3 linked regions of the Homo sapiens genome follow. The protein of the gene in region 3 interacts with the protein of the main gene of each other region in a pairwise test. Each region holds a gene or a part of one and is shown on either strand. Other genes may lie near its edges.

Evidence for each region. The genes of interacting proteins can lie anywhere in the genome.
Region 1: the proteins of SREK1 (region 3) and TARBP1 interact in a two-hybrid assay, tested with the Homo sapiens proteins (one study listed by BioGRID).
Region 2: the proteins of SREK1 (region 3) and SH3GLB2 interact in a two-hybrid assay, tested with the Homo sapiens proteins (one study listed by BioGRID).

Annotation. Positions count from the first base shown.
Region 1 is NC_000001.11:234,469,146-234,476,179, reverse strand, and holds part of TARBP1 (tRNA (guanosine(18)-2'-O)-methyltransferase TARBP1), read left to right. Parts: intron 1-3,368; coding exon 3,369-3,466; intron 3,467-4,922; coding exon 4,923-4,992; intron 4,993-7,034.
Region 2 is NC_000009.12:129,011,298-129,018,331, reverse strand, and holds part of SH3GLB2 (endophilin-B2), read left to right. Parts: intron 1-2,472; exon of another isoform or gene 2,473-2,592; intron 2,593-3,427; coding exon 3,428-3,561; intron 3,562-3,828; coding exon 3,829-3,921; intron 3,922-5,312; coding exon of another isoform or gene 5,313-5,324; intron 5,325-6,033; coding exon 6,034-6,096; intron 6,097-7,034.
Region 3 is NC_000005.10:66,139,574-66,147,301, reverse strand, and holds the start of SREK1 (splicing regulatory glutamine/lysine-rich protein 1), read right to left. Parts: upstream 3,003-7,728; 5' UTR 2,926-3,002; coding exon 2,765-2,925; intron 2,468-2,764; exon of another isoform or gene 2,119-2,467; intron 1-2,118. UniProt on the Homo sapiens protein: Participates in the regulation of alternative splicing by modulating the activity of other splice facors. Inhibits the splicing activity of SFRS1, SFRS2 and SFRS6. Augments the splicing activity of SFRS3.

The DNA.
Region 1 (7,034 bases), on a different chromosome or scaffold from region 3:
CCCCATCTGCTCATCTGTTTATGCATATTGTTTACCTTTTCCACAAGATCCTTTAGCATATCAATTATAGTTATCTGCAAGTTCGATACCTGGACCATCTAAGTTTGGCTTTGTTTTCTGTTGTAGTGTTTGGCTATGGAGTCGCTTTTTTTTATGTCTTACTATAATAACAGTAGAGATGGAAGTAAATATTTCTGCCTGGGATAGGCACCGTTACTTTGTGGCATTGAGTTAGTCTAGTTTGTAGTTGAGCTGGGTTTGGCGTTGGTTGCTGTATTTGTTTTCAGTGCACTTTACAAACTTTTCCCAGATTTTGTGGCTACTTGCTTAGCTGAAGCCTGGAGTCTCGAAAGGTTTTTCTCCAGCCTGGGAGGCCTGTGCCACCGATGGAGGTCTTCAGCCAAGGCTTCGTCCCTCCCTCAGGGGTAGACTGCTGATGCTTGTTCCCTGGTGCAAGAGATGAGGCAGGGGCTTTTCATTTCTTCCACTGCAGCCTTGTATTTAGGCCCCATGTGTCTGAGCGTCAGCATTCCTGCTCTTTCGCTGTCTGTGCTCCCTCTCCAGTGGCAATAATCGTTGCCTCCAACTTAGGGGTGCGTTTAGGTTCCTGGCCCTAACCTGTGGCAGCTGCATTCTGCGTGAGTGTCTGTGGTAGGTCTTGGGTGTAGCGTCCTGCCCTCCTCCAGCACCTGCAGACCAGCTTTGTATCAGTGCAGGATATCTGGCAGTAGGGGGTTTGCTTCCCCTTCCACAGAATAAGATGCATTCGCCTAGTGTCAGTGCCGAGTGAAGGGAGCAGGTTCTATCCCTGCCCTAGAGGCAGGCAACTTTTGCTTGTATCAAGGCAGGGACAAGGGTGAGAGTGTGGGAGGGGCAGACAGCTTTGGCTTCCTGTCGGAGAAGGGTCCAGGGGGACAGGCACGTTTTGGCAGTTGATCACCATCTTGTACTCCTGCAGGGCATGGCTGGGCCTCTCTAGTTAGTCCTGCTGCCCTGGGTGCCTGCGCCTCTGAAGATCTCCTGCCCTGGCCACAGTCTCTCTCGAGAGCACCGGGGCAGGCTTGAAGAAAAGAGCTGGTGAATGGATGTGGACTCCCTCAGCAAGCTGTGAGGCTAGCCCACCTTGGTCTTTAAAAACTTGTCAAAATGCCATTTTTAAAACTGCTTTTTGGGTGACCATGTCTTGCTCCTGTGCCAGAAGTAGAACAGATAAGTGGCCTTTCCATTCTTGGAGCGCCTTCCTTCCTTTTAGAATTCAGGTTGCATTGTGACCTCAGTTCTGATGCTCCCCCCACCCACCGCACAACAGTTTAGGATTTTGTAGATTTTTCAGCCTTTCCTCTTTGTATGACAATAACGATCTCCTATGGTTTTCTATGTCCTAATGAGCAACTGAAACGATACATATCTAAATGCCTTTATTTTGTCCTCATATTTCATTGATGGTTTGACTGAGGGTAGAATTCGAGCCTGGAAGATATTTCCATTCAAAATTTTAAAGGTATCTATCTATTGTCCCAGAAGCTAGAGCTTCCAGTATTGCTGTTGAGAAATCTGAAACCATTCTGAATCCTGTTTATTTATACAGGAACTGTTTCTCTCTATGGAAGTGTGTAGGATCAGTGGCTCTAGCATTCTGAAATTTCACAGTTTTGATAGGAGTCTATTTTCATCCTTGTGCTGGGCACTTGCTGGACCTCCTGTGCAATCTGGAAATCATGTTCTTCAGTTCTGGGAAATTTTCTAGAATATTCTGTGGATTATTTCGTCCCTTTCTGTTTTCTGTTCTTTTTTTAGATATTGAACTTCCTGGACTTTCTTGAAAGCATCTTTTCTCTCCTAAGGATTTTCTATGATTTTGGATTGAGTTTTTTTTTTTAAATGTCCCCTTTGTGTGTGTGTGTGTGTGTGTGTGTGTGTGTGTGTGTGTGTGTTTTAGAGACAAATCCTCGCTCTTGCCCAGGCTAGGGTGCAGTGGCGTGATTATAGCTCACTATAACTTCAAAATACTGGGCTCAAGTGATCCTCTCATCTCAGCCTCCAGAGAAGCTGGGACGATAGGTGTGCACCACCATGCCCTGATAATTTTTTAAATTTCCTTGTAGAGACAGGGTCTTGCTATGTTGTACCAGGCTGGTCTCAAGCTCCTGGCCTCAAGCAATCCTCCTGCCTCAGCCTCCCAAAGTGTTGGGATTACAGGCATGAGCCACCAAGCCTGGTCAGAATGTCCCCTTTTTAATAATATCCTGTTCTTATAATACTACTATCTTCTTAAGATATTGCTGAAAACTCTTTTAAAAGTTTTCTTCTACCTGTGTAATTTTGTTTTCTCCAATTTCCTCCTCCCACTCCATTTGTTTTGGTCTTGATCTTTAGTGTAGAGGTTTCCCCAACTGTCTGATGATTCTTAGATCCCTATTTATGTTTAAGGATAAGAAATCAAAATTGGGTTTAAAGCTCTAAGCCCATGAGTGGTGCTGTTGACTGAACTTCACCATAAGGTGATTTGGCCAAGCCATTTCATTAAGGAATCTCTGATATATTTTCAGATCTTTCCTCCTGGGCTGGCCAGATTCTGCAGAGAACATCTTCCAGTTGTCTGATGCATAGTGAGGGCCTGGCCAGCATTCTAGGACCTGAGGGGGCAGGTAGAGAGGAGTCGCAGCACCCAGGGTGCACACATGTTCGCTGAATCCCCTTTGTCAGTAGGACTAATGTCTGCTGTGTCCTGTGCCTCCCAATTCAGAGACGCACTATTTTACCTTCTCCAGAAAAGCAGTTCTAGTCTTTTCCTGTTCAGGACATAGGAAAGTGGCCTGGGGATGTGACTGTTTCTTAAACACTGAACACATCCTCTTTGGTTTAGCCTCACTTTTCACTCCACTTACCAGAGTAACTTTTGCAGCCACTTCCTTTGGTTCCGGGGGATTTTGCAGCATAAATCAAATTGTTTCCTGGCTTTCCCTTTGTCAACTTAAAATTCTCATGACTTGAGTCAACTTGGTTTTCATCTGATTTTCAGATTCTGTATTTTATTGCTGTTGTCTGCCCCCAGTGTTCTCCATTCTTTTGGGGTTTTGCCCTTGAAAAATCCTTTACTGTTATAGTGAGATTCTTAGGGAGAGAAAGTAGAGTTTATATGTGCAAATCTGCCATTTTTACCCAGAACTCCAAAACAGTAATCTTAGTGCAAAAAAAAATCTCCCTCTGAGATTCCCAAGCCCCCTATCCAGGCTCTGATACAGGGGCACCTCCATTATTAGAGAATCCATTTGGTAATAGTGGCATTATTTTAAGAACTGCTGTCATTGAGAAACTTATGAAATTTGCAAAAGGAAGAACTAATTTTCTTTTTTAAACCATATCAGGCCCAAGTCTGTTTTGGTGGTCTGAGAGGAAAAAAGATGAGCTTCTAAAGTTTTGGGAAAATTATATTTTAATTATGGAGACTTTAGAAGGAAATCAGGTAAGTGTTTTTCTATTTTAGCAAATCCTACAGTAGATAACAATTTTTCTTTTTTAAAAACATTCATTAAAAGCGATACAAAGAGACTAACTCAGATATAGCTGGTGATGATAGAATCCAAGTATACTTTGTTGTCTGGCATAAATGCAACTTAGAGTGTAAGTTGTTTCAGGAAGTTAAAGAATACTTTCAGTTGACAAATTATTCAAAAATTTGATCTTCCCTTGCCATTCTAAAACTTTAACGTTTATCAGTATCAGTATCACCCAAATGGCTTATTATAAAGTATAAATTGCCATGCCCTGTCCTCAGACTTTCTGGTTCAGTAGGTCGGGGTGGGGCCTGGGACTTTTGAGTTTTTTTTTTTTTTTTTTTTTTTTTTTTGGAGACAGAGTCTTGCTCTCTCGCCCAGGCTGGGGTTCAGTGGCACGATCTCAGCTCACTGCAACATCCGCCTCCTGGGTTCAAGTGATTCTCCTGCCTCAGCCTCCCAAGTAGCTGGGACTACAGCCACGACACTGGCTAATTTTTGTATTTTTAGTAGAGATGGGGTTCCACCATGTTGGCCAGGCTGGTCTTGCACTCCTGACCTCAAGTAATCCACCCGCCTTGGCCTCCCAAAGTGCTGGGATTACAGGCGTGAGCCACCGCACCCGTCCAGGACTTTTGAGTTTTTTACAAGTTCCCAGGTGATATGTATGCTGCTGTTCTGGGAACTACACTTTGAGAACCATGGTTTCCATTCTGCAAGTTGGGGACCACAGAGGTGCCAGCCATCTGTGGAGTCATTGTGAGGTGTCAATCCAAATGTGCACCAAACCTTGTTTGTGGACTTAAATAATTACTTATATGTGCTAAATATATATAGATGCAAGGATGAGGAGTAAAGAAAAAGCATTTCTAAATTCAAATTAACTTTTATGGTTTTCTTTAATCAGTAGATCCATAAAACCCCCATTATTTATTTAGAAACCCAAATTTATCCATATTTTGAAGGATATGTAAATTAATCTCAAGCAAACGTGTCAGCAACTTTGGCTATGTGGTATTAAGAACATGGAACTCCGAACTGGCCGTTCTAAGCGTGTGCAGCCATGAACAACTTGAGTGACTAGAGAAAACATTTCAGTGTCTTTTTTCTCTTTGTAATATCTTAGTATTGGCAGTCCTACCTGCCTGCCAGGACAGTTGAGGATTCTATGACATGATTTATGATAATCACTGTATAAATGGTAGACTTTAATGTAGCTGTAATGTGGTTATATTCATTAGCTTTGCCATACTCAGTCTTACATACCTGAATCATACTATTGTTTGAAAAACTGGATAAATCAGGCTCTTTCTACATATGTTTTGTAGAAACAGAAGAGCTACTGTGAAATAAAGAGATGAAAATTGCCTGACATTTTTCAAGATGCATTTTCATTTCATATGATTTTTTTGCTCTTATTTTTAGATACATGTTATAAAGCCAGTTTTACCAAAGCTAAACAATCTGTTTGAATATGCGGTGTCAGAGGAAAATGGTAACGATTACTTTTATTTTATTTTTTAATAACATTTATGGTTTTCCCCTGATTTTGTAACTAATTCCTGTTCATTGTAGAGAATTTTGAAAAACTATAAAAGTGTACAGAAGAAAATATAATCATCTTGTAATGCTGCCACCAAGAGATAACAGTTGTTACCATTCCAGATACACACCTTCTGGATCATGTTGTTCATGTTTATCTCACTTAGCATAATAACTATATGCATCTACTCATATCCTTAAATCGTCTTTAAGAGCACAATTTTGGGCCAGGCGTGGTGGCTTATGCCTGTAATCCCAGCACTTTGGGAGGCAGAGGTGGGCGGATCACCTGAGGTCAGGAGTTCAAGACCAGCCTGGCCAACATAGTGAAACTCCGTCTCTACTAAAAATACAAAAATTAGCCAGGCATGGTGGTGTGTGCCTGTAGTCCCAGCTACTCGAGAGGCTGAGGCAAGAGAATCACTCGAATCCAGGAGGCGGAGGTTGCAGTGAGCCAAGATCACACTGCTGCACTCCAGGCTGGTGACAGAGCAAGACTCCGTCTCAAAAAAAAAAAAAAGAACACAATTTAAAATAGCCACAGAATTTTCTACAATTAAGAGATAAGGTTAATTTTTTAAACCGTTGATGATGGAGAATTTCAAACATTTATAGAATGAGAAGAGTGTGTGTGACGCACCTACCACCCTCTTTAATAACGATCGTCTCACGGCCAGCCTTGCTTAGTGTATCCTATGTAGCCTTCCCTGTTCCCTTCTTGCTAAATGGTTTTGAAGCACATCCCTAGATATCCTATCATTTTATCTGTGAATATTTCAGCACATTTCTTTAAAAGATAAGGACTCGTCGATAGGGTTTCAATGATGACATAGTCTGTGGTTTTAATAATTGCTCTTTTTTTTTGTTTTTGAGATGTGGAGTCTTGCAATCTGTTGCCCAGGCTGGAGTGCAGTGGGATGATCTCGGCTCACTGCAACCTCTGCTTCCCGGGTTCAGGCAATTTTTTTGCCTCGGCCTCCCAAGCAGCTGAGATTACAGGCATGCGCCACCACACCTGGCTAATTTTTGTATTTTTAGTAGAGACGGGGTTTTGCCACGTTGGCCAGGCTGGTCTCAAACTCCTAACCTCAGGTGATCCACCTGCCTCAGCCTCCCAAAGTGCTGGGATTACAGGTGTGAGCCACCGTGCCTGGCCAATAATCACTCTTTGGTATGAATATATCTTTTTAACTGGTTTCCATTCTTATTCTCTTAGTATATCTTTTCCAGTGTTTCTTAAGTTTTCAGTTATTGTTCTGTATCTTGTACTTCTTAGGAAGAGAAAATTCCGGGATATAATTTCAAATGTGTTTATAAGCCCTTGATCACTATATTATGAGAGCTTTTTAGGAGATACACAATGAAGCTGGAGCTTCCTAAATGTATTTTATAAAATTAAGTTTAATGAAATAGCTAAATGCAGCCCAATAGTGTTTTGGCCTGTGTTCATATGAATGATAAAATGCCACATTATTGTGTTTACACATGAGAATTAACCTAGGTAAATGGTTTTTAGTGCCTACTCTAGATAATTACAGTTTAATAGTTTGACCCCTTAGGAATTGAGCTTTATTCAGCTGATTGCTGTAGTTGTTTTCTGATACACTGGGATTTTTCACAGACCATAAGCATCTGTAGTTGCACCTGGGGCTAGAATTTAATTGAATCTTGTTGTGACTTCACTTATTCATTTACCATTAAAATGATGCTCTTATTACCACATTTTGCCCACAGCTCTTGAGAAACCAAATCAAATAGCAGTGACTGATTTTGAAAAATTACCATTGCCAAAGAGTTGAACAAGCATCTTGGTGTAAATTACAAATAATGGATTAATTTATTTATAGAATGTCATGAGTTAAAAATGCTGAGTATTTTTCTCTAATAGAAGTAAAAGATATTTCAAAAGAGTTAGAAAAATATCTCTAAGATATTTATTTATTCCATGGTTTTGATTTGCTCACTCATTTATATATTTACTGAATAAATATTTAC
Region 2 (7,034 bases), on a different chromosome or scaffold from region 3:
TGCTGGGATTACAGGCGTGAGCCACTGCGCCCAGCCAATTTAATTTAACTTTTTAAGAAGTTGCCAAACTGTTTTCCAAAGTAGCTGTATGATTTTTTTATTCCTGTCAGTAGTGTGTTGTTTCATTTTCAGATATTTGTGGATTTTCTGGGTTTTCTTCTATTGTTGCTTTTAACTTAATTCCACTGCGATCAGAGAATGTATGAACATGTCGTGCTATGTTAGTATTATTATTATTTTGAGATGGAGTCTCGCTCTGTCGCCCAGGCTGGAGTGCAATGGTGCCATCTGGGCTCACTGCAAGCTCCACTTCCCAGGTTCAAGGGATCCTCCACCTCAGCCTCTCAGCCTTCTGAGTAGCTGAGATTACAGGCACGCACCATCACGCACCTATAATCACACCCAGCTAATTTTTTTTTTTTTTTTTTTTGTTTGAGACGGAATCTCGCTCTGTCGCCCAGGCTGGAGTGCAGTGGCACGATCTCGGCTCACTGCAACCTCCGCCTCTCGTGTTCATGCCATTCTCCTGCCTCAGCCTCCCAAGTAGCTGGGACTACAGGCACCTGCCACCATGCCAGGCTAATTTTTTTTTTTTTCAGTGGAGACGGGATTTCACCGTGTTAGCCAGGATAGTCGATCTCCTGACCTCGTGATCCACCCACCTTGGCCTCCCAGAGTGCTGGGATTACAGGTGTGAGCCATCACACCCGGCGTATTTTTTGTATTTTTAATAGAGATGGGGGTCTCACCATGTTGGCCAGGCTGGTCTCAAACTCCTGATCTCAAGTGATCCGCCTGCCTTAGCCTCCCAAAGTGCTGGGATTACAGGCATGAGCCAGCACACCCAGCCTCATATTTTTATTGTTTTAATCCTTTTAAATTTATTGAGACTTGTTTCATGACCTAGTATATGGTCTATCTGGGGAATGTCCTAGGTTCACTTGAGAAGATGTGATATTATGCTGTTGAGGGTGCAGTGCTGTATAGGTGTCAGCGAGGCCACATCGGTTAATAGTGTTCAAGGCTTGTATGTCCTTGCTGATTTTGTCTTGTCCTATTCATTATCAAGAGTAGACTATTGAGGCTGGGCATGGTGGCTCACACCTGTAATCCCGCCACTTTGGGAGGTCAAAGTGGTTGGATCACCTGAGGTCAGGAGTTCAAGACCAGCCTGGCCAACATGGTGAAATCCTGTCTCTACTAAAAATACAAAAAAATTAGCTGGGCATGCTGGTGCGCGCCTATAGTCCCAGCTACTTGGGAGGCTGAGGCAGGAGAATTGCTGGAACCCGGGAGGCGTAGGTTGCAGCGAGCCAAGAGCGCGCCACTGCACTCCAGCCTGGGAGACAGAGTGAGACCAAAAAAAAAAAAAAAAAAAAAGAGCAGAGTATTCAAGTTTCCAACTATTACTGTTGAATTATCTTATTTCTCTCTTTGTCAGTGTTTGCCTTATGTATTTTGGAACTGTCTTAGGTCTGTATGTTTATATTTGTGCATCTTCCTGATGAATTGACTCTTTCATTATAAAATACTATTCTTTGTCTCTAGTACTATTTTGTGTTAAAGTCTATTTTGTCTGGTAGTAGTATAGCCACGTTAACTCTCTCGTGGTTACTGCATACATGGTGTACTTTTTTCAGCCCATTCATGTCTTTAAATTTAAAGTGTATCTTTGGATTTTTTTTTTTTTCTGTCACCCAGGCGGGAGTGCAGTGGTGCGATCTTGGTTCACTGCGACCTCCACCTCCCGGTTTCAAGCGATTATCCTACCTCAGCCTCCTGAGTAGCTGGGATTACAGGTGCTTGCCACCACGCCTGGCTAATTTTTGTATTTTTAGTAGAGACAGGTTTCACCAAGTTGGTTAGGCTGGTCTTGAACTCCTGACCTCATGATCCGCCTGCCTCAGCCTTCCAAAGTGCTGGGATTACAGGTGTGAGCCACCGCACCCGGCCGTATCTTTTTTTTTTTTTTTTTTTTTTTTTTTTTTTAAAGACAGTCTTGCTCTTGTTGCCCAGGCTGGAGTACAGTGGTGTGACGTTGGCTCACTGCAACCTCTGCCTCCTGGGTTCAAGCAATTCTCCTGCCTCAGTCTCCCAAGTAGCTGGAATTACAGATGCACACCACCACACCCAGCTAATTTTTGTATTTTTAGTAGAGACGAGGTTTTGCCATGTTGTCCAGGTTGGTCTCGAACTCCTGACCTCAAGTGACCCACCCACTTTAGCCTCCCAAAGTGCTAGAATTACAGGCGTGAGCCACTGCGCCCGGCCTTGCCTTCACTTTTGAAGGATTGTTTTGCTATATATAGAATTCCTGGATGAACAATTTTTTCTTTACTTTGAATATATTATCTTACTGCTGTCTGGCTTCTATTGTTTCTAATGAGAAGACAATTCATCTTATTTTAGCTCTCTTGTATGTGATGAATCAAACCATGTTTTTTCTTTTCTTTTCTTTTTTTTAAAGACAGGATCTTGCTGTGTCACCCAGACTGGAGTGCAGTGGTGCAATCATAGCTTACTACTATAGCCTCAAACTCCTGGGTTCAAATGATCCTTCCGCCTGGGCCTCCCAGAGTATTGGGATTACAGGTGTGAGCCAGCGCGCCCAGCCTCTTATTGTTTCTTCACATATTTTTTCTGCCTTATTTTCTCCTCCTCTTCTGGGACTCTTGTTAGTCATATGTTGGTTCACTTGACAGTGCCCCGTAGGTGCTGAGGCGCTGCTCATTTTTCTTATGATTTTCTATTTATTTTTTATAAAGACAAGGTTTTGCCATGTTGCCCGGGCTGGTCTTGAACAGCTGGGTTCAAGCAGTCTGCCCACCTTGGTTTTCCAAAGTGCTGAGATTACAGGTGTGAGCCACAGCATCCAGCCCAGTAGTTTTTCTTGATTAAATGCTTTTCAATTTGTTTTTTGCCTTGGTCAATTTGCAGAGTCCAGAAATGGATGTTTTTGACAATTGTGTCCAGTTTTCTTTCAATTTGTTTTATTTTCAAAGAGATAAGGTCTCCCTATGTTGCCCAGGGTGGTCTGGAACTGCCGAGCTCAAGTGATCCTCCCGTCTCGGCCTCCCAGAGTGCTAGGATTATAGGTGTGAGCCACCGCACCTGGCGTGGTGTCCAGTTTTATTGTTACTTTTTTTGGGAGGGGATTTGTTGAGCTCCTTTCTCTGACATTCTGGAAGTCTAACCCCGATCTTTATAATGGCTGCATTGTGTTCCATATTTTGGCTGTCCCATTGTTTATTTGTTAGTTCCCAGTTGATGGTGTAGTGTAGGTTGCTTCTGCTTTTTCCCAGGCAAAGCATTCTGCACTGAGCACCCCGGCCCTTGCTCTTCAGCAAGCTCTTCCTGAGCCCTCTCCTGTAGATCAGAGTAGCCTGAGCCTGACCTTCTTCCTCACGCTTCAACTCTGTTTTCTCAGGGAAGACACTGATCAAGGTGGCAGAAGCTGAAAAGCAACTGGGAGCCGCGGAGAGGGATTTTATCCACACGGCCTCCATCAGCTTCCTCACACCCTTGCGCAACTTCCTGGAGGGGGACTGGAAGACCATCTCGGTGAGGGCCCTGGGACTATTCCGCTTCCTGGTAACCATGGCAGTTCCCTCCTCAGAGCCTTTGAGTACAGGCTCTCTTCCAGTGCTGGGGCTACAAAACTCCTGAGGCCTCCCCAGAGAGGGCTCCTTTGGACTGAGTGACCTCCTATCTCTGGGCCTCAGTTTCCCTATCTTGACTTGATCGTCCCCGGCACCAATCTTGCCATGCATGGCTCAGGGTCTCCCAGGGCAGCCCAGGGTCTCACTGTCCCCATGCCCTGCCCTGTAGAAGGAGAGGCGGCTCCTCCAAAACCGGCGTCTGGACTTGGATGCCTGCAAAGCGAGGCTGAAGAAGGCCAAGGCTGCAGAAGCCAAAGCCACGGTAGGTGTCCCCGCTCCCCGCTGGCCTCCTGGCCCAGGCTCTGGCTGGAGCCAAGGGGTGGTGGCATGAAGGGACCTGGTATTTGGCATGACCTCTCTCCCCTCTCCCTGGCTGGAGATGCCTGGCTGGGGGCTGCTGGGCTGAGCCTCTCTGTCCCTGCCCTCAAGGGAGCCTTGGTGGCCCCCGAGCTCTGGTTCCCAGGGAGATATCTACGGTGTGGGCGGACCAGCAGTGCCCCCAGCTGGGTGCACCACCCCGCCAGGCAGCTGGAGTCTCCTGCATGCCCTGCCCTGCCCTCCTAGATGCTCGGCTCTGTCCCCGGCTCTGCCCGGGCATGGCACCTTCTTACTAACTCTACTACTTGCTGCTTGAACGTCAGGCCGAGGGTCCCTGTGCTCAGGCGCCCCCACGATGGTGTGGAAAACCTGGGAGCTGGACCGCCCGCTTGCTCAGGGCCGTGTCCGAGGGGTCCCATGAGATTGGATAGGGCCTGGGCCATCTGGCGCCCCCTTCACTCCCAGCTCACTGAGGCCTGTTCAGCCTGGCTGGGTCAATGGGACGCAGCCTGGGACAGTGTGCCCAGGGCGAGGCCAGGATTGGAGGAGCTGGGCCCAAGGGTGAACACCCTCCTGGCACAAGAGGTTGCTCAGGGCTGCCAGGCCTAAAGGCTGCCTCATACCTTGCAGAGGGAACTCCCAGGCCCAGGCCTACTAGGGAGATGGCTACCTGTGGCTGCCAGCTGATTAGCCGAGGGAGGCCAGGCCTAGCCTGGGCTCACAGCTGCCCATGCACCTTGCGTTCCCCTCCCATAGTGTGGCCCCAGAGCCAGCACTGCCCCTGGCGAGAACCGTCTCAGGTCACTCAAGTGTGTGGGGTCTAGATCAGAGGCAGGGGTGTAGTTGTTTCAATCTTGGGGTTGGCTAGGGTGACCTGTGCCTATTGGGATGACCTCTTCTAAGGCACCTGAACAGGACAGTCTCCCCCGTCACTTCGGGCCAGACACCGTCTCTGGAGTAACTCAGCCAGAACACACTCTCTCCATCAGCCAGGCCAGAGGAGCCTTTCCTGTCATTGCAGTGGTGTGGCCTCTCCCTCACCTGGTGGGCCTGGACAACCTCACATCCTGGGGTTGGGCCAGGCCACCTTTCCAGAGCTAGGACTTGGGCAGCCCCAGGAACAGCATTCCAGAGGACTCAAGCTCCACAGCTCTGTCCCCATAAGCACGCACACGTTAGGACTCTTCAGGAGGGCAGGCTGTGGTGCCTCCCTCCGCCCGACCGCCTGGTGTCCCCTCCCACTGGGGCCTGGGGGGCCTGCTCCTGCCTGCGCTGTGGACTCACTAACTCTTTGTTTTTGTTCCTTTCCGTCCTGCTTTGGGTAACTTGGCTCAGTGTGAGGGAGATGTGAGTATACCTGTCCCACGCGCTGTGCTGCTTCCGGTCTGCCCATCTTGCCCGTGGACCCACGGTGCCATGGCCAGCCCACGTCCTTGGGGCATTTTGCAAGCAGCTGGTCTCCCCGCCAGAGCCTCTACTGTGCAGGGCCTCTGGTTTAGGGGGGGATGCCAGGCGTTGGGGCCTGTGAGTCAGCTTTTTGCAAATGTTGGACGCCTGTCACTCTGTCTGCCCATGCATCCATCTGTCCACCTTCATTGTCGGGAGGGGCCTGGCCCTTGATGCAGGAGCAAGAGATGTGGTGTGCGGATTCTGGGATGGAAAAAGCCATCCCAGTTGGGGGTGGGCTGTGTTTGCGGGACCCTGGGGCATCTGAGTGCCACTGGTCTGGGGAGGAGGGGGCTGTGGCCCCTGGCAGGGGAGAGCCCAGCCTGTGACTTGCTCAGGCAGCCTCGGCCATCTCCTCACCGCATTTGCTCTCCTGAGCTCCAGTGCCTGCAGCCACTTGATCTTTGTCTGGACTCTCCAAGTCCCTAGGCCCCTCATCTCCAGGTGGTTGGAGTCGGGAGAAGGGGGTTTGTGTTGTGTTTGTATCCCCGTCCCTGGGGTCAGGCCTCTTGGCATCTCCTTGTGCAAGACTCTGGGGTAGCCTCCTGACCTCGACCCTGGCCCTGGCCCAGGGTGACCCCCTCCCCACATGAACTCTGTTCCCCGCCAGACGGTGCCTGACTTTCAGGAGACTAGACCTCGTAATTACATTCTCTCGGCCAGCGCCTCCGCGGTAAGCGCACCCCACCCCCACCCCACCCCTCGTCCTCCTCTCTCCCCACGTCCCACACCACTGCCTCTGACTGCACAGGAGCTAGAAGCCAGCTTGGGTAAGGCGGGGGCACTGCCATGTGATCAGGTCAGTCCTGAGACACTGGGGAGGGGCAGCAGCCCCCACCTCTGTCCACGGCCTGGCCCCGGTGCCCTGTGGCCATGGAGCTGGACTTGTTTCCCTCTGCAAAACGCTGGAGCTGGCGGCAGGGCCAGCCACACTGAGTAGTGTGGAGAACTCAGGGCGGCAGCTGTCCCATCCCCAGGGCCCCTCCACCTCCTGCTGTCTCTGAATGCCAGGCCCTGGGGAGGCCCTGAGGATAGAGGAGGAGGCCTGGCCGTGCCTTTCTGGAGTTCACAGACCCCTAAAGACAGGAGGCAGGGATGGCGTCGTAGGCCTGGAGAGCGCCTGGGGGGCGGGAGGGCCTGAGGCTGTGCTTAAGGCCCAGAGGTCCTGGAGCAGGGCATGTCTTGTCCTGAGGCTTAGGCAGGGCCCCCAGGGGAGTTGGGGCAGGAGGTGGGGAGGACAGGATCGTGGAGGCTTCGCATGTCATGGTGTCTGTTGGTTTTTAGGCTTTCTTGGGAAGTCTGGTGTTTCCTATGTAGTTTGGGGACTAGGCCACACCTCTCCCTCATGCTTGTCACCACTGCTACACCTTGTCTGCCCACTTTCTCTCCTTCCCGCCCCTGGAGGTGAGACCCTCACCTCTCTCGTGAGCATGCTGCCTCATGTCTTCCGTGCCGTCGTTCTGTGGCTGGGTGACTGTCCCTCAGGCCGCCAACCCTAGTTGGCTCTCACAGCAACTTCCAGTGCTCCTGGACGGGGACTTCCTAAGCAGCATGGGGGCCACACGGGCCGGCCACGCACACTGGCCTGGGTCCGCATTCCCTATTTCAGGC
Region 3 (7,728 bases):
ATTGTGCAAAAAGTTAATAGTAATTCTACATATTTATCAACTGGCAGCACAAAAAAAGGATGACAAACTACAAATAAGAATTCTTAATGCTTACAGTGAATGTTCACAAGAATTCCCTAGCCTTAAAAAATTCTTAACGTTTAAAAGATAAAGATGAAACTCAACCACTGCATCATGCCAAAAGAATTAAATTTAAAATCTGAATTTTCATATTAGCAACTTAAGTCATTTAAGTCATTTTTTTTTAAGAGATAGGGGTCTCAATATGTTACTCAGGTTGGAATCAAACTCCTGGGCTCAAGCTGTTCTCCCACCTCAGCCTCCTGAGTAGCTAGGACTATAGGTGCACACCACCACACCTGGCTCAATCATAAAATTTTAATGAGAAACTATTTTCACATTCTATTAATGTATTTCCAATATACCTGGAAATATGTATTTGAAAATAAATATATTTCCAATTTTAAAACAATTTAAATTTCTACTCAACTCTAAAGATGTCATAAAATAATTTATGTGACACTGCAAAACAATATATTTTCAATACAACTACTACTATTGCATTTTGTATCCATTTCAGTCCAAATTTGCAAACACGTCTTCTAATATAAGGACCAGGCAATGACAACTTCATTACGAAGCAGAAAACCTGTGAATAAAGCATGTCAGTATTGCTGCAAAACATGAATGAGGGATCTAGTATTGCACTTAGGGAAAAACTAGTTAAGGATTTTGCCTGGCCTATATATATTACACGTATGCAACAATTTTGCTTAATGTGTTACAGTTTGTGAAATACACTACCGTAATCTTCCATATGTTTAAGTGAAGAACTTTTTATTCTCTTTGACTTTTAAATTCCAAGTAATAACATCTGATTTCAAAAAAGTGGCCCATTACTGTCAGTTATGGCAATGTGTTGTCACCCAAACCCAGGTTTCAACCAAATAAATATTATGTTGATAATGAAGAACATTCTCCAATATATTTCTTCTACCTATGAGATACCTTATTACCACAGCCTTGAAAGCAAGATTTACAAAGGTTCATGTACAAAGTATTTTACTGATTGATTCCAATGCCTGCAGGATACGGCACTCCCCCAAACAATTCTCAATTATTCTCAACTATTAAGAAATGTTCTGAGAACTTAAATTGAGATGGCTGAAAGCATTTCCAAAAGTTAAGATAATTAAAGCAATAATGCCACGGTTAATCAATCAAAATGTACGTGCGTGCACTTATGCAGTATTCTCGTCAAAAATGTATTACCTGAATCTCGTCACGAATATAAAGATATATATATACACATATCTCTATATACCTCATCTATATATCTCATCTATATAAACTCAGATTATGAGTCATATTACAAGACAAAATGAACTACAAAACAAAATATCAATGTCACGACTTTAGAATCTTTAAAAGGGGACGGGACTGTCCTAGATTAAAGGAGATAACTATTAATACATGGATTACTTGGCATATTCAAGGGAGACAGTGTTATCTAATTACATACTAGATCAAAAGCAGACAAAAAAGCATTATTAAAATAACTGGGGAAATTTTAATAATCAACTGTAGCCAAAAACAGACAAAATGCTCGTAAAAGGAACATGGATGTTCAATGTATTACTCTTTCAACTTTTCTGTATGCATGAAATATTCCAAAACAAAAAGCAGAGAAGAAAAACTTAAAAAGTAAATTTTAAATATCCACACAACTTTTATATAGTTATGCAACAGCACTGTTATAACCTGAGATAGAAAACTAAAGAAAAATAGGTCTAAATGCATCACTAGGAAATAAATCAAAATTTTTTTAAAGAAATAAATCTTGGGTAACAATTACCCCTTCCCTCAAAGGATTTTGATATAATGAACAAAAAACGGAGGATCTTAATACTGTAAGATCTACCATTAAAAAAGAAAAAAAGTTTGTGTGCAAGAATGTGAACAACCTACAAACCCCTTGCGAGTTTTCTAAATAATATCGTACGAGGGAAATTTTACCATTCCAAAATACACTATCTGGGAAGTGGCCGCGAGCTGTGAATGCCAGCCAAGATCTGGACTTTAAATGTATACGGGAGGGATAACCCTGCACCGACTTACACTTTTTCTGAAAGCTTTGGGACAGTGTGACCTTTCAGGAGGAAAATTTAATCTGCTGTCAAAAGGGCTAACAGACATGATCTTTGGGAACATGGATGCGCTCGGTTAGATAAACCAAAATGCTAAGTTTGTGCGACCGTCCTGGGAAACAAACACAGCCCCAGTTCCATCTTGTCACCAGCAGCAGGCTTTCTCGTCAGCAAAACGGCCTGACACCAAGGCCTTAAAAACTGGACTGTGGCTCAGGCGCGGTCTCCGCGATTTTCAGAGTGGAAAAACGCTCTGAGACGTTTGCCATGAGGGCTGTTCCGGGCCCACCTGCGGCCATCTTAAGTTCGGGGGGAAATAAGAGGGTGGGGGCACGGAATTCGAAGACCCAGCAGCGAACACAAGTCCCGGAGGCACAGAAAGGGCAACCATTCTAAATCCTTGGTAAGGGCTCCGTGCAGTAGTTAACCCCCCAAATCCGACTAAGGAGAGCAGGACGGCGGAACCCGGGTGCCCTAATCAAATATGGGCACCAAGGTAAGCCGGCGCGATCACGTGACATGCACCGCGCGCCCGCGTCCGCGCTCTCCTCCACGCCTCGGCTCCCGAGGTCTCTATGGCGCCCGCGCCCCTCCCCCAGCCGAGCTCCAGCACTTACTCCGGGGGGTAGAGCCGCAGCTCCTCGATTTCTCCTAGGAAGGAAAAAAGCGTCCGCATCTGCTCGCTGGTCACCGCCGACGACAGATTCGTCACCTGAATCACCGACGTGGGGGTGAGGCCGAAGCCTAAGCCCAAACCGAAGCCGCCGCCGCTGTTCATCCCGATCCCGCTGCCGTTGCCTTCCCGCTCCCCAACGTCTACGACGCGTCAGCGACGGAGCCGGGAAAGCGGAGAACGCGCGGCCGCGAGCGCGCTCCCGCTGGCGAATTCACAGCGCCGGGCAGATCTAGCCGCCCATTTCACAACTCCCCTGCTCCCGGGGCTGCGCGCGCCAGCCGGAAGCGTCGCCCCGGCAACCCGGCGGTTCTCGCGCGGCTGCGGCCTCCAGCTCCCGGGTCCCTGGGGCTGTTGCTGCTCGTTTCACCGCCTGGATTTTTATCGGTGTTTTTGTTTTCCCCAAAAGTCGATGAGAGTCTTGTGCTCATGTCTACCCGGTTCCTTCCGGTCTCGGATTGGGAAACCAAGCGGCCTGGCCTACTGGTGCGGGACTGTAAAGAAGGAATGACTCTTGGACAACACGGAAGAACACTTGACCAAACTATAGGGCAGCCTTATCACATACAGGCAGCACCCCAACTCCAACTATTTTTAAAAGTTGGCAGGCGTCCTAATTGTGAAAAAAACAAAATTTTACAAAATGCGTAGGTTCAGGTTGAATTAAGGAAAGAGGCAGTAAGATGAAGGCTGTGCAGGGGTTGTTTATAACCTGTTTTTAATTCCCTCGTTCCACAGGTGTTGATGTTTATTGAGTGCTATGTCCCAGGCACTATTAGGCAAGGGCACGTAACAGACAGTTAAAGACAGTTCACATAGAACTTGCAACCTAATGAGAGACAACAGTAGTGAGTCCATGGCAGCTGCTCCCAAAATGCCCTCCGCAGATCCCTAAGGGTACCGAGACCTTTTCAGTAAGTTGGCAAGGTCAAAACGATTTTCGTAATAATATTAAGAGTTTCTTGACCTTTTTCACTTTGTTGCCATTTGCACTGGTAACGTAAAAGATTAAACTGCTGACACCTTAGCAGCAATCAAGGCAGTGGCGCCAGTCTTGTACTGGTAGTTGCATTTTGTATTCTTCACATCATACAACATTTAAGGTTTTAAAGTATGCTAGTTTCACTTTAAAAATGTCCTTCACAAATAACTAAAAATTGTATTTTTTTTTCAAATCCATCCTTGCTTACACGTCTTTTAAAGAATATGTGTGAAAAAATGGAAACTACTGCCGCTACATGCCCAAGTGAAATGGTTGTCTCCGGAAAAAGCACTAGTGTAATTCTTTGAATTTTCACCTAAAAATACAAATTTTATTACACTTGTATCCACCAGCTTGAGCTTGACAGCTTGCCAGTACTTAAAGACTTTTCTAGTAAAAGAAGCATTATATTAACAATTTATTTTTGACTATATAATGAAATATGTCAACATTTTTGTGATCTTTACAACTTAGTGGACACCTATTTTTCAAATGGCCAGTGGGTGCCATTACAAAGGCAAAAAGCCTCTGGTATGTGCAAGATAGATTGATGGATTTCAGTGCTTAATTGATGTGGTTTCAGATTCAGTCCACACTGCAATGAAGGCTAAGAAACTACCACATGTAAGTTTGGTACCGTATCAAAGAATAATATCTAGAACTATCTGGAAAGGCTATAAAGTAGTTTTCCCTTTTCCAACACCTTATCTTTATGAGATCAGATTTCCCTCATATATTTCAACCAAAACATATCACAACAGATCGAATACACAGAAAACTCATGATCACAAAGAAGGAAACGTCAGTCACTGTGGTCTACTTGAGGGTGGAGGGTGGAAGGAGGGAGAGGAGCAGAAAAAATTATTGAGCACTGGGCTTAATACCTGGATGATGAAATAATCTGTACAACAAACCCCCATGACATGAATTTATCTATGTAACAAACCTTCACATGTACCCCTGGACCTACAATAAAAGTTGGAAAAAAATAAAGAATACATAGATAGGAGAATTCAGCTGTCTTCTATTAAAGCAGACATTAAAAAGGTTTGAAAAATGTAAAACAATGCCACTCTTCTCACCAATTTTTTGGAAAAATATTTTATCATAAAAATGCATCATTTTGCCTTCAATCTCGGTTTCTAAGAAAAAAATGCGTCATTTCTATTAACATAATGGGCTTATAATTATTTTTAAATGAATCTCAAAATACCAAATTTCTCAGGTTTAATTTATAATGTGGATAGTAATAAAAGCATTTTACAGTCCTTAATAATCTTTAAGAATGTAAAGGGACTCAAGACCAAAATGTTTGAGAATTATTATTACCATAGGTATAAGCATGGAGGAATTCAGAGCACACAGGAGGGCCTCTTAAACTTAGTTCTAATGGAATACTTCCCAGAAGAAATATTGCTTAAGCTGAATATTGAACAAATAGGAATTACCCAGGCAAGGAGGGAAGGAGGAGCAGTGAAGGGCATTCCAGACTGAGCATGTAGAATATGCAAAGGCAGGGTTAAGGTAAAAGAGAGCTCGAGTGAGGTACAGAAGATTCAAAGTCTGTTATTGCTGGGCTGAAAATGACTAGAGATGCATGCAAAGGAATAAGCCTTTATGAAGGGTATTATTTGTCATGGTAGAGATTACTTTATCATAAGCTGGGAGCCACTGAAGACCTCGGAGCTGAAGAGTGACCCTGATCAGATTCATGTTCTAAAATGACTGGCTATGTGCGGTGGCATATGCCTGTAATCCCAGGATTTGGGGAGACTAGGGCAGGAGGATTGCTTGAGCCCAGAAGTTTGAGACCAGCCTGGGCAACATGGAGAGACCCCGTTTCTACCAAACAATAACAACAAAAAAGTAGCCAGGCATGGTGGTGCATGCTTGTAGTCCCAGCTACTGGGGAGGCTGAGACGGGAGGACTGCTTGAGCCTGGGGGTTCGAGGCTACAGTGAAAATGAGTTGTGATTGTGCCACTGCACTCCAGCCTGAGTGACAGAGTAAGACCCTGTCTCAAAAAAGAAAGGAAGGAAGGAAGGAAAGAAAGAAAGTGATGACTGTCACTGCAACCTGGAGATACATTGGAAAGGGTTCAGACTAGAGGCAAAGAAACTGGGTAGGTTATTGCAATAATCTGAATAAGCTATAATGAGGTCATGAACAAAGGTAAGAGGTGGTAGTAATGGAAAGCAAGGAACAGCCCCAAATTTGAGAATCACTGAACTCATTTGAAGATAAAAGGAATAAAAGCTGTCCACTCAGAAAAATATATATGGACATAAACTCACTTTTAGCTACAATTACTGATGCTTTCTGGTCCTCCTGAAGTCCAACCATAGATCTCTCGGATTAACAACTAGTTTTGAACAATTCTCAGACTTTAGTGTGCATCAGAATCAGCCCGTGGGCATGTTACAACAAATTGCTGGTCCCATCCCCAGAGTTTCTAGTTCAATAAGTCTGGAGTGGGGCCTGAAATTTTAATTTCTAACAAGTTCCCAGGTGAGCTCCTTCTTGTGGTCTGCAAACCCCATGTTGAGAACCACTGGTTTAGAAGGTTGTAAAAGCAGTATTCTTAATGGACTTAATCTACTCTTAATAGTAAAGCAGAAGGAGGAGTTTAGATTTATGTCTTGGAGAATTAAGTAAACAGTGTCATAATTTAGGTCCAAAAATATGAAGGAAGAGCAGCTTTGGGAGGAAAGAGCAGAAAATATTGAGATCCCTTATGGACAACATTCTGAAATGAAATTTAGGAAAAATGTCTAGAACTAAGATATAGCACTTGACTTAAGATTGGGAGGAGATATAGATACACCAGGAATGTTTGTAGCAGGAAAAGTGCTGTGGACAACATTAAACAGACAAATACAACAAATAGCCAAAAAAAAAAAATCAAGCCCCAAGGAAAACTGGGAGGGAGGATAGTCACAAAATTTAAAGGAAGAAAAAGGTTTTGGCTCTAGGGGGTATTGTTGTTTTTGTTGTTGTTGTTATAGAGATGAGGTCTCACTATGCTGCCCAGGCTGGTTTCAAACTCTTTCGTGTGGAGAAGAGGTAACAGTATCCCTCTATAAATCTCTCAGGGAAACTTACCAAACCTGGGCCTGTTCCAGCCCTGCCACTCTGGCCAATGTGACTGTTCTACCATGGACTTCTGAGATACATTTTAAAATTCCAACCTCCATGCCATGTTCTGCTTCCAAACTCTGTAATCATTCTCACGGCTCCAATTTTCAGCTATTTCTTTATCTCCAGGCCTCTTGATTTCATCTGCATGCTAACCCAACACCTTCAAATACAACATCATAGGAATAGTGATGGCAAAGTTTCAGTGAAAAAAATAAAAAGAGCTCCTCACAAGGAGGCTCAGGCCCATAAGAGCCAACCAGAAACCAAAAATTCAAAAAAGTAAACCCCAGTAAATACAGCAACAGAAAAAACCAAGAGAAAGATGTACATGATAGATTTTAGGTACTTACTAGACTGAGAACCAGGAGGTGACTTTGGAGAGAGCAGTTCTGGGGTGTACAGGGACAGGAAGAGAATGCTAGAGCTGGGAAAGTATATAAGATAAGTGTGGGATGTACTTACAAGAAGAGGCTTTGATGACTGTTAGTCTTCTTGTTTTGGTTTTGAATGAGTGGGATCTGCTATGAATCTACTCTATGGAATCTGAAAGGAAATTTTGACAGTAGAGAATAATTTAGGAGTAATTTCAGGTAAGGAAAGATCTGTAAGTAGTCTTATGTTTGAAAGAGGAGTGCTGATTATATTCTTAAGAAGAAAGCTAAATAGGTTGTCCTAGAAATAATCAGAAAAAGAGTGAGAACTGTGCATACATAAGTGTGCGTGTGTGTGTGTGCATGCACATGTGTAATGTGTTTTGGAGTAGTACTCTTCCAAAACTGAAGCAGAAA